3 linked regions of the Homo sapiens genome follow. The protein of the gene in region 3 interacts with the protein of the main gene of each other region in a pairwise test. Each region holds a gene or a part of one and is shown on either strand. Other genes may lie near its edges. The genes, in order: PGCKA1, EPAS1 and EIF3E.

Region 1 (2,752 bases), on a different chromosome or scaffold from region 3:
TTTCTGTGATTACTTTTCAACCTAGATAAGTATGTCTAAATCAAATAGATATAGTTGGTATAAAAATGTTTGGTGGCTCACGCCTGTAATCTCAGCAATTTGGGTGGCCAAGGCGGGTGGATCACTTGAGGTCAGGAGTTCGAGACCAGCCTGACCGACATGGTGAAACCCCATCTTTACTAAAAATACAAAAATTAGCTGGGTGAGGTGGTAGGCACCTGTAATCCCAGCTACTCGGGAGGCTGAGATAGGAGAATCGCTTGAACCTGGGAGGCGGAGGCTGCAGTGAGCTGAGATCACGCCCCTGCACTCCAGCCTGGATGACAGAGCGAGACAGTCTTGAAAAAGATAAACAAGGTTCTGCCTGAAATACTCTTAAGAAGAGAGCCAAAAGGAGGAAGGAGGGGTAAGGGGTGAAGTAAAATACAAAGTGGTTCATAGAATTTTAAAATAAAAAACAAATAAAACAAATGTCCACTAACAGGGCCATAAGGAGTATATCCTCTCAGTGGAATATTATGCAGTCACTAAAATGATAAATATGAAGTCTGTAGTCACAGGAATGATACTTACAATACATAGTTTTTGAATAAAGCCAAACATCACAGTATGATTACAGTGGAATACAGCTTATTTATATATAGGTCTAGAATAGAACTATGATTAAAAAGACAGTATATTTGTTAAGAAAGCAAGATCATCAGTTACCCTTTTTCTTAGTTAGAAGTTTATGTTCACGTTACTCACAATTTTCTGAAATGCAATGTGGACAAAATTAAAAGCACATATGTGATTGGGGTGATTTATTTTCAGCGATGCCATTTCAGGCATCCTCAGAAACCCAGACCAAATTCAGCCTCAGAAAATGATGGTGTTCCCAACATGCTTTGAGAAGTGAGCAAAAAAAGTTAAAAAAATCTAGGGCACATGTTCTTTTAAATGATATTATAACAATTCCAAACTCTTAATGTGTTGGCAATGTTGATCATGCCCCAAGCTGGATAAATGCACTGAATACACGCATGGTCTTTAAAAGTGACCCCACGCTCATCACAAATTCCTCCATTTAGAAGTAGTATTTCTCCAGCTTTACCTTTGTATTATTTTACAGCACCTGCACCCCATCTGGATTGTTTTCTGTTACCACCTGGAAAAGAAAGCGTAAAAGGTAGAGAACACAGTGAGTGATATATTAGTAGGAATTAAGTTTGCCTTTTTTTTTCCCTAGAGACTCAAAATGTATTAAGAGAGTCACACATTTTGGCAAAAGGATAACTACCACGTGGGTCAGAGAGGGTGCTGGTTACCAGGAATACCCCATTTCCATCACCGCTTCAGAGTTCTCAAACGTTCACTGACACTTGCCTCTGTGTCAGACCTTTCTCCCAACCCTGGGGTTATGTGTTTCATCCCCATTTTGCAGATGAGGAGAAGAAGGTGGAAGGATGCTAGACAGAGAAGGGACTTCTGCTTTTCTAATCTGTTACCTTCTACAGAGGACACAGGAACCTCACCAGGGCACGGCCCACTGCACGCAGCAGCAGGAGGGGAAGGAGATTCTGACGGATTCCTTGCCAGGGCATTTGCTCCTCAAGAGTTAAAGGATGCCGGAATAAGCTGGCGGATCCATTGTGTCCCATGATTCAGGCCCTGAGGAGCGTGATAGCCCGAGTCATCGCACAAGCTTCAACCACACTAAATTGATTCTGTGTTGCTTTTCCTACCGCTGGGCCAATCTCAGCTATGATTTGTGGACCTGTTCTTTTGCAGCTCAAAGACATGCCCCCTTGGGCTTCCTGGCAGAAGGTGGACTCATTTCCCACTTGCCCACTGTTCCCTGACCCCTCCCCAAGCTGGGCTTTTCCCCATCATTTCCTTTGGAACAAAATCTTCTCTTCATATAAAACTGACCATGTTGGCCTCTTCCTTCCTCAGAACATCCTAAAAATGAGTATGGAAGCATCTCTTAGATATTATTCATTTCTAATATCTACAGCCTTTATTTTTATTTATTATTTTTTTTTGAGACACAGTCTCACTCTGTCGCCCAGGCTGGAGTGCAGTGGCGCAATCTCGGCTCACTGCAACCTCTGCCTCCCAGGTTCAAGCGATTCTCCTGCCTCAGCCTCCCAAGTAGCTGGGTTTACAGGCGGGTGCCACCATGCCTGGCTAATCTTTGTATTTTTAGTAGAGACAGGGTTTTGCCACGTTGGCCATGCTGGTCTCAAACTCCTGACCTCAAGTGATCTGCCTGCCTTGGCCTCTCAAAGGTCTGGGATTACAGGCATGAGCCACTGTGACGGGCCTACAGCCTTTAAAAAGACAAGCCAAAACAGAATCTGCATCCCCAGTCTCCCTGTCTCCATGAAGCACATGCACCAGAAAGAGACATCATTCATTGCTGGCTGTGTCTCTGTCTCCCATGTTGTCCCTCCTTCCTTCTTTCAATCATAGGTGAATTTCCAGGGATGCTGCTTCATAAGCTTTTGTCCACAGTGAATATGACTGGTGCTTTTTAAGAAGTACAGATTGGTTGCTTAGTTAAAAGGGACTAGATTTACATTAAAAAAATAAAATCCACAAATAACTCCCTATGGTAGGCTGAAAAATGGCCCCCAAAGATATCCACATCCTAATCCCTGGAACCTATAAATAATACCTTATATGCCACCCCAGCCCCCAAATTAAAGGTATTTGCAGATGTGATTAAGTGTAGGATTTTCAGATGGTACAATTTGCCTAGTTTATCTGG
Region 2 (3,660 bases), on a different chromosome or scaffold from region 3:
AGTACCTTCAGAAAATTACCTGAAACTCATTTAAACCAAGATAATGAATAAAGGATAAGGCTGAATTACCCCTTCCAGAGGATTTCTTCTCACTGTAACAAGGATCAAAATCTTAAGCTTAAAAAAAATCTCTTTTCTATTATGTAGGGATGCCAAGTTATTTTCTAGGACAGTAGGGTTTTCCCAGTGCTTATGGAGTTATGTTACGGATGTGCTTCATTCACCAGGGTGAAGCACGTATCTGACTTTCATCATCCCCAGCACTATATATGCTCCCAGGCTATATGGCTACGTCGGCTTGAGCCACTTCACCTCAAAGCCAGTGACACAGGGGCTATGCAGTGGGATTGTCCATGTTATCTCACAAGACTACTGAGGTACACAAAGCTGTGTCTTCTGCCCAGAATGTTCACCTGAATACAAAGACTGCATCTGATAAATAACCTTACCTATAACATGGATTCCTGCAGTGCCTGTCACTAAAAGTGCAATCTTCTTCTTGAACCACCATCATTATCACCACCACCACCACCACCACCACCACCACCACCACCACCACTACCACCACCACCACCACCACCACTAACAATTACAATAAATGGTGACTGTGTCGAAGTTCCAGGACGGAAGGCTTCATGCATGACATTTTCTCCCTATGAGGTTAGAGCATTTCTTTCTACTTATATAACTACCCACTAGCTCCAAAGGCTGTGAATCCTGGCCCTACTGTGGTCAGAACTGAAGGACAGGAATGACTCAAGGATACTTTTACAAAAGTTCTGAAATTGTGCCACAAGTGGTGGCCAACTCTAAGAAGGGGCGACCAACCAACACCAGGCCGGTCTGGAATCAGAGGAGAGAAACCCCATCCTGGAGAGGAGGGTCCCTCCCATGAAGAAACCAGATGCCCTTGGGATGTCCAGCTGATAAGAGAAAAGTGGGTAGGCCTAGGGGAGGCTGAGCAGGAGCTTTTTTTCCTGGGGTTCCATGGTTTCCTGCTAGCTGAGGAAGACAAGGCAGATTCTTGCTGATCTGGGGGTCAGATTCTTCCTCTTCCTGCCCCCCAGCCACTAACTGCCTTCAGAAGTGGTTTCAGCTCCTTGAGTTTAGTGGAAGATTTTGCTTTGGAGGAGGCCAAGGACAGGAAGTAAGATATAAGCAATAACAAGAAGCCTCACATGTGTTGTGGTGTCTGGACTTCTCAAAGTGCTTGCACAGCCATTATCTCATTTTACAGTGACCCCATGAAACAGGTTAGAAAGTGTTATCTCTATTTTGGAGAAGGGGAAACTGAGATCTGAGGGTTTCCTGAGGAGAAACCCTAGAAGATGAGAGAAGAGTGGCAAAGAGTTGGGGGTGGCAAAGAGCTGCCACAGGAACTGTCACCCTGGGACACATGGCGGCTCTAGATGCTGCAGAAAGCTGAGGTCAGGCAGGGAGATCTCTGCCAGGAAGGGCGCATGCGGGGGGTGCTGCTCAGCAAGCCCCAGTGGCGCTTACTCAAGCCAGGCCTACCCTGGGCCCAGTCTTCTGCATTTCCTTCCCTCCCTGGGGCCGGCCATTGCTCCGGGCATCTGTTCTCCCCATCTTCCTCCTCCTACCTCCCATCATCAGGCTCCACAGTCCCAGAGGCAGGGCTGGTGGGGGAGTTAGGAGCTGTAGGGTATCTAAATACTCCCTCCTATGACAACCCCAGTCTCTTCCCCACCTGCTTCAATCTTCTAAATGAGCTAAGAACCCGAGATGGCATGACATGCCTAAGCAGTCTTAGGCACTCTTTCAACAACTCTAATAAAGGTGATAATAAGAGCTAACACTGAACATTTATTACTAAATTTGAACCTAAGCCATCTAGTCCTGAAGCCCATGCTCTTAATCACTACTGTGTCTCCTAAGAGACACTGGGCCTGGCACTGGGGGGTTAGCATCTGGCTCAGCTACCTTCATCTTCTTCAAAATGGCTGGACACTGGCCGGAATGGAGTTGCATGCAGGAAGGAACAAGGCGGAGGGAAAGGCTCAGTCAGTAATGGAAGAGGGTCAGTCTCCAGGGCAGAAGCTGATGCTCCTTACTGGCCTCTGAAGCAGGAGTACAGATGGAAGTCTCTAGACTCTTTCTCCTGGGGCAGAAGACTGCCTTGAGAATTTCCTCAGGAGCCTGATACACGTATGGAGAAATATGTTCACACCACAATGATGAGAAGAGTTGCACACCAGGAAAGCTCTGCAGATGGACCCTGAGGCTCTGTCAATGGGAGACCACCAAATACAGTACCGGGAACCTCTGAGGGGCACTGATGCAATGAAACAGTGGCACAGGTCCACGAACATGCACCCGGCAATACCACGTCTATGTTCAGTTCCACACCTTTAATACAGGCACAACTCCCCACACACACAGGTAAGACCCATCTCTGCCCACAGCATACACACCCATGGCCCCCTACCTGTCATCACAGTAGGTGAACTTCATGTCCATGCTGTGGCGGCTCAGGAAGGTCTTGCTATCCAGGGGGATGTCCATGTGGGATGGGTGCTGGATTGGTTCACACATGATGATGAGGCAGGACAGCAGGGGCTCCTTGTAGCCACACAGACTATTGTGAGGAGGGCAGTTGTTGTAGACTTTCACCTGGCCCGTGCAGTGCAAGACCTGAGACAGGCGTGGAAGGGTCAGACATGGAGCCGAGAGTGCTGGGGGTGGGGGTAGGGCCTTAGGCATCCCCTGCACCGCCGTTACCCTACACCTGGGACTCCAACCCAGGCCTGATGTTGCCCTACCTTCCAGGTGGCTGACTTGAGGTTGACAGTACGGCCTCTGTTGGTGACCGTGCACTTCATCCTCATGAAGAAGTCCCGCTCTGTGGACATGTCTTTGCTTTTTTTCCCAAAACCAGAGCCTGGATGTGGAAGGATGGGAAGAACCAGCTGAAGTCAGTTTTATATGGATATTCATGAGAGGGGCCCAGCTGCAGTTTTTCTTGGCAGCCTATTGTTTATATTTTCCAAATATCTGCTCTCTTAGCACCTGTGGTCTGCCATCAACACTGAGCTCCATCATGGCCTGTGAACTAATGGTTCCCACTCTCAAGCTTATCTCCTCAACTGGAGCATAAACTCCCACAAGGGAGGAGCTGCTCCATCATTTGATTTCCCATTGCATCTGGAACATGGTCAGTGGTGCCTTCAGAGCAGCGACACAACGACTGCCTATCAGCCACTAACTCAGCCACCCTTTCCTGGGGCAGGCCCAGGTCTTCTCGCAGAAATTCCAAGGGACAGTCTGAGTGAGGCCACAGTTACTCCAAGGGTGTAAGCCTTCCTCACAGGTTAGAAATGTCTCTCCGACACTCCCGTCTTTCCTTTATAACCTGTCTCTCAGGAGGAATTTAACCCCTCCTGTACCCCATTTGCAAACTGCAATAGCTGTGTTCAGGATACCATGCCATTAGCTTTGTCCCTGAAGTGACATATGTATCAAGGCTCTAGAGAGAACTCTGGTACGAATCTCCTTACAGTGGACTTGGTGAGCAAGTCCACTTTATGGATTAACTCAACCTGGATCATATCCTCTCTCTCAGCAAAAATTAAATCACCAAGACCAGCAATATAGCTTACTTCCTTATAGTTGCCAAACAGCCTCCCGATTCAGAACCATTTT
Region 3 (3,162 bases):
CTGCTTTTGTGCTACATGACAGAGTTGAATACCTAAAACAGAGAACATACTGCCTGCAAAGCCTAAGATTTAATATCTGACCTTTTACAAAAAAAAGTTTGTAGACCCCCATGCTGTTTAGTATTGGGAGGTCTCCATGCTCTTTGAATGGCAGATGCAACCTAACTACCGTAGTCTCTAAACTGAGTATGGAAGGTGGCCTGATCAGATGTCAAATAAAAGAACAGTATGTACCTTTTTATCTTTGAACCTCCTCCTTGAGAGCAGCAACAAGTTTCTGTTATCTGACTGGCTGTCAGTTCAACCAAAGTGAAAAATCAAGCCACTTCTATGTAAAAAAGGGACCCAGTGAGGGCTCTGTAGCTCTTAAATACCTCCAGTATCCAGTAAACAGTATGTCTGTATTTAACATTTGACACTTATAAAATTCAACTTATATGCCTAGTCTCCGTAACTATACAGTGAGTGACTGAGGAGCCACTTTTAAGAAATTAAGGAACAACAGTTTTATTTGTAATAGTACCAAACTGGAAACAACTAAAATATCCTTCAATAGGTACATGGTTAAACCACATGGCACATCAATACCAGTTAAACCACGTGGCACATCAATACCATGGAATACTATTTGGCAATAAAAAAGGAATTAACTACTGATCATATATATATATATATCTATCTCTCAACTTGGATGGCTCTCAAGAGCATTGTGATGAATGAAAAAAGCTAATCTCAAAGGTTGTGTATTATGTAATTCCATTTATATAACATTCTCATAATGACAAAATATAGCGATGAGGAACAGATTAGTGGTTCCTAGGGTTAGAGTTGGTTGGGAGTAGGTATGGCTACAAAAAGGTAGCATGAGGGAGATCATGATGATAGTTCTCTATCTTGGCTGCAGTGATGGTTACACAAATCTACACGTGATAAAATGGTAGGGAGCTATTTGTACACACATTGTACCAATGTCAACATCCTGGTTTTGATACTGTACCATAGTAAGACAAAGTGAAAAAATTGAGGGAAACAGGGTTCAGCCTACAGGGACTTCTCTGTACTATTTTTGCAAATTCCTCTGAATATAATTATTCCAAAAAAGAAAGTTAAAAAAACACAAACTTGCACATGCAAGAAAACTGACAGCAAGATAAAATGAATCAATTTTATTCCAATTCTTCAAAATTTATACGTAATATGTTGTTTCCAAAATGTAAGTCACCCTTTATATAATAGTTTTATTATTTCATCTTTCTTTGATAGTTTTTTTTTTCATCTTTTCTTTATGGTTCTTCAGTAGAAGCCAGAATCTTGAGTTGCCCAGTTAGGAGCCTAAAATATGCAAAAAGAAATCAACACCGTGAAAAGAAAATACTTTCGGAAAAAAACTAACATAGAAGAAAGTAACACAGCATTTACTTCAGCACTATAGTCTCTTGCCAAACCATTCTAAGATCTTAACTCCTGCAATTACTAGATGTCAGATGTCCCACTCAGGACAAAACAAACACCAAAATTATTATCTGGTATAGCTTTTGGCCAATTAAAATATATAGCAATAACAGTATCATTAATACTGGAACAATAAATGATACAAATTAATCCTAAAGCATACAGAAAAAAACATCATATGAAAGTTACTTTCTAGGCTCAGTTATTCTAAACTTGGCTAAAATATGCAACTTGAATTCTAATGCATCCTTCTCATTTGAACTAAAGGATTATTCTGCGGACACAAATTTGTTCCTAAAATTTCAATCAAATGGGGTCTCTGCATATCCCACAACTGCTTCCTAATGACTTCCTACCCTCCAGTTACACATAATCATAATGTCTAAACAACACAGTTTAGGATTCCAAAATTATAAGGCCATTCAAGTTTCTTCAATCTCTAACATGCAGGATCTCTATCAAAATGGGAGATTAATTTTTGATATGAATATCAGATGAAAGATAATGAAATTTGTATAAGATCAGCACTAATACATATAATAAGATCAACATTTTTACAGAATTATTTCTTTAGATTTAGAAAGAATACACATTTCGAACACTTGAAAGAGGGCTACACATGTAAGTTATCATCTGCCAGTATCAAAATGATGTGTTGAAAACCCTGAGGAAATGAGTTAATGAAGTCACACAGGAAGAGTCAAAGCAAAAGAAAAATAGTTATAATAAACTAGGAACACAATTTCTTTTTCAGTTTCTATGTTTAATGCATATAATACATCTAAGAAAAAATTTTCTGTTTAGTAATTTCTTAAAAATGTTCATATCTTTAAAGAGAAAAACAAAATCAGCTACAACTCATCAATACACTTTGAAACTTCATGTAACAATTACATGGTTGCTAAACCCCAGACAGAATAGAAGATGTGTGGTTCTTACCTCTGACCTGCTATTCTGATTAAGTTTCTTCTCAATATTCATGGCCAACATCTGGCTTCTAAAGGAAAGGCTTTTGGTCTTTTCAATCACTTGCTGATAGGGTGAGACTGCATTGTTACCCATAACCACATGACCCTAAAAGGAAACACAGGGAAATTGATCCTATAATGTTAATGACTGAGTTTCTCAGGTAAGTAAAAAGCATGACATACCTTTGCGCATATTTTAATGCACTGTATAGAGATGACAATATTTACCAAGGAAGAAAAAAAATAGGAGGCTTCTGTTGCCTTCAAAGAACTGTTTTACATTAAAACAAAATAAATTATTAAAGGAGGTAATAAAATGTCCTAGTTAAGAATTCCCAAAAGTATAATCAGGAACTGATAGTATGTAGCATAGCTAACATAATACTCACTAATTTAGAATCAATCTTGGCATCCAGTCTTGCATTTCTAATCAAATTTACAATCCACCTTTCAGCTTCTTCTGGAGTCATGTTCAATTTATCTGCCAACATGCTAATGAAAAAGTAAAAACAGCAATGTTAATTAACTGGGCCTAAAAACTTAGTTTTATGTACACAGTGTTGACTCACACTCTGCATAGATACTTTTTGGTATTTCTGGATCACCCTTCTCTTATATACCATGACCCCTACTGTCTGATTTGTTCATGTGCTTGTGCCTATTGACTTGTACTATGCACGACCTATTCCATTCACCAACTGGACTGTAAAATCCTTGAGGGTAGGGTAACATATTCTGCATT

What was found.
Region 1: the proteins of EIF3E (region 3) and PGCKA1 interact in binary tests that used the Homo sapiens proteins (3 or more experiments, as listed by UniProt).
Region 2: the proteins of EIF3E (region 3) and EPAS1 interact in binary tests that used the Homo sapiens proteins (3 or more experiments, as listed by UniProt).

The regions. Positions count from the first base shown.
Region 1 is NC_000004.12:37,587,241-37,589,992, reverse strand, and holds part of PGCKA1 (PDCD10 and GCKIII kinases-associated protein 1), read right to left. Parts: exon of another isoform or gene 1,148-2,752; 5' UTR 1,126-1,147; coding exon 1,094-1,125; intron 1-1,093. UniProt on the Homo sapiens protein: Acts as a tumor suppressor. Acts as a tumor suppressor for colorectal cancer cell proliferation by targeting KEAP1/USP17/ELK1/CDK6 axis.
Region 2 is NC_000002.12:46,359,877-46,363,536, reverse strand, and holds part of EPAS1 (endothelial PAS domain-containing protein 1), read right to left. Parts: intron 2,900-3,660; coding exon 2,781-2,899; intron 2,653-2,780; coding exon 2,447-2,652; intron 1-2,446.
Region 3 is NC_000008.11:108,200,592-108,203,753, forward strand, and holds the end of EIF3E (eukaryotic translation initiation factor 3 subunit E), read right to left. Parts: intron 2,913-3,162; coding exon 2,810-2,912; intron 2,527-2,809; coding exon 2,392-2,526; intron 1,333-2,391; coding exon 1,294-1,332; 3' UTR 625-1,293; downstream 1-624. UniProt on the Homo sapiens protein: Component of the eukaryotic translation initiation factor 3 (eIF-3) complex, which is required for several steps in the initiation of protein synthesis.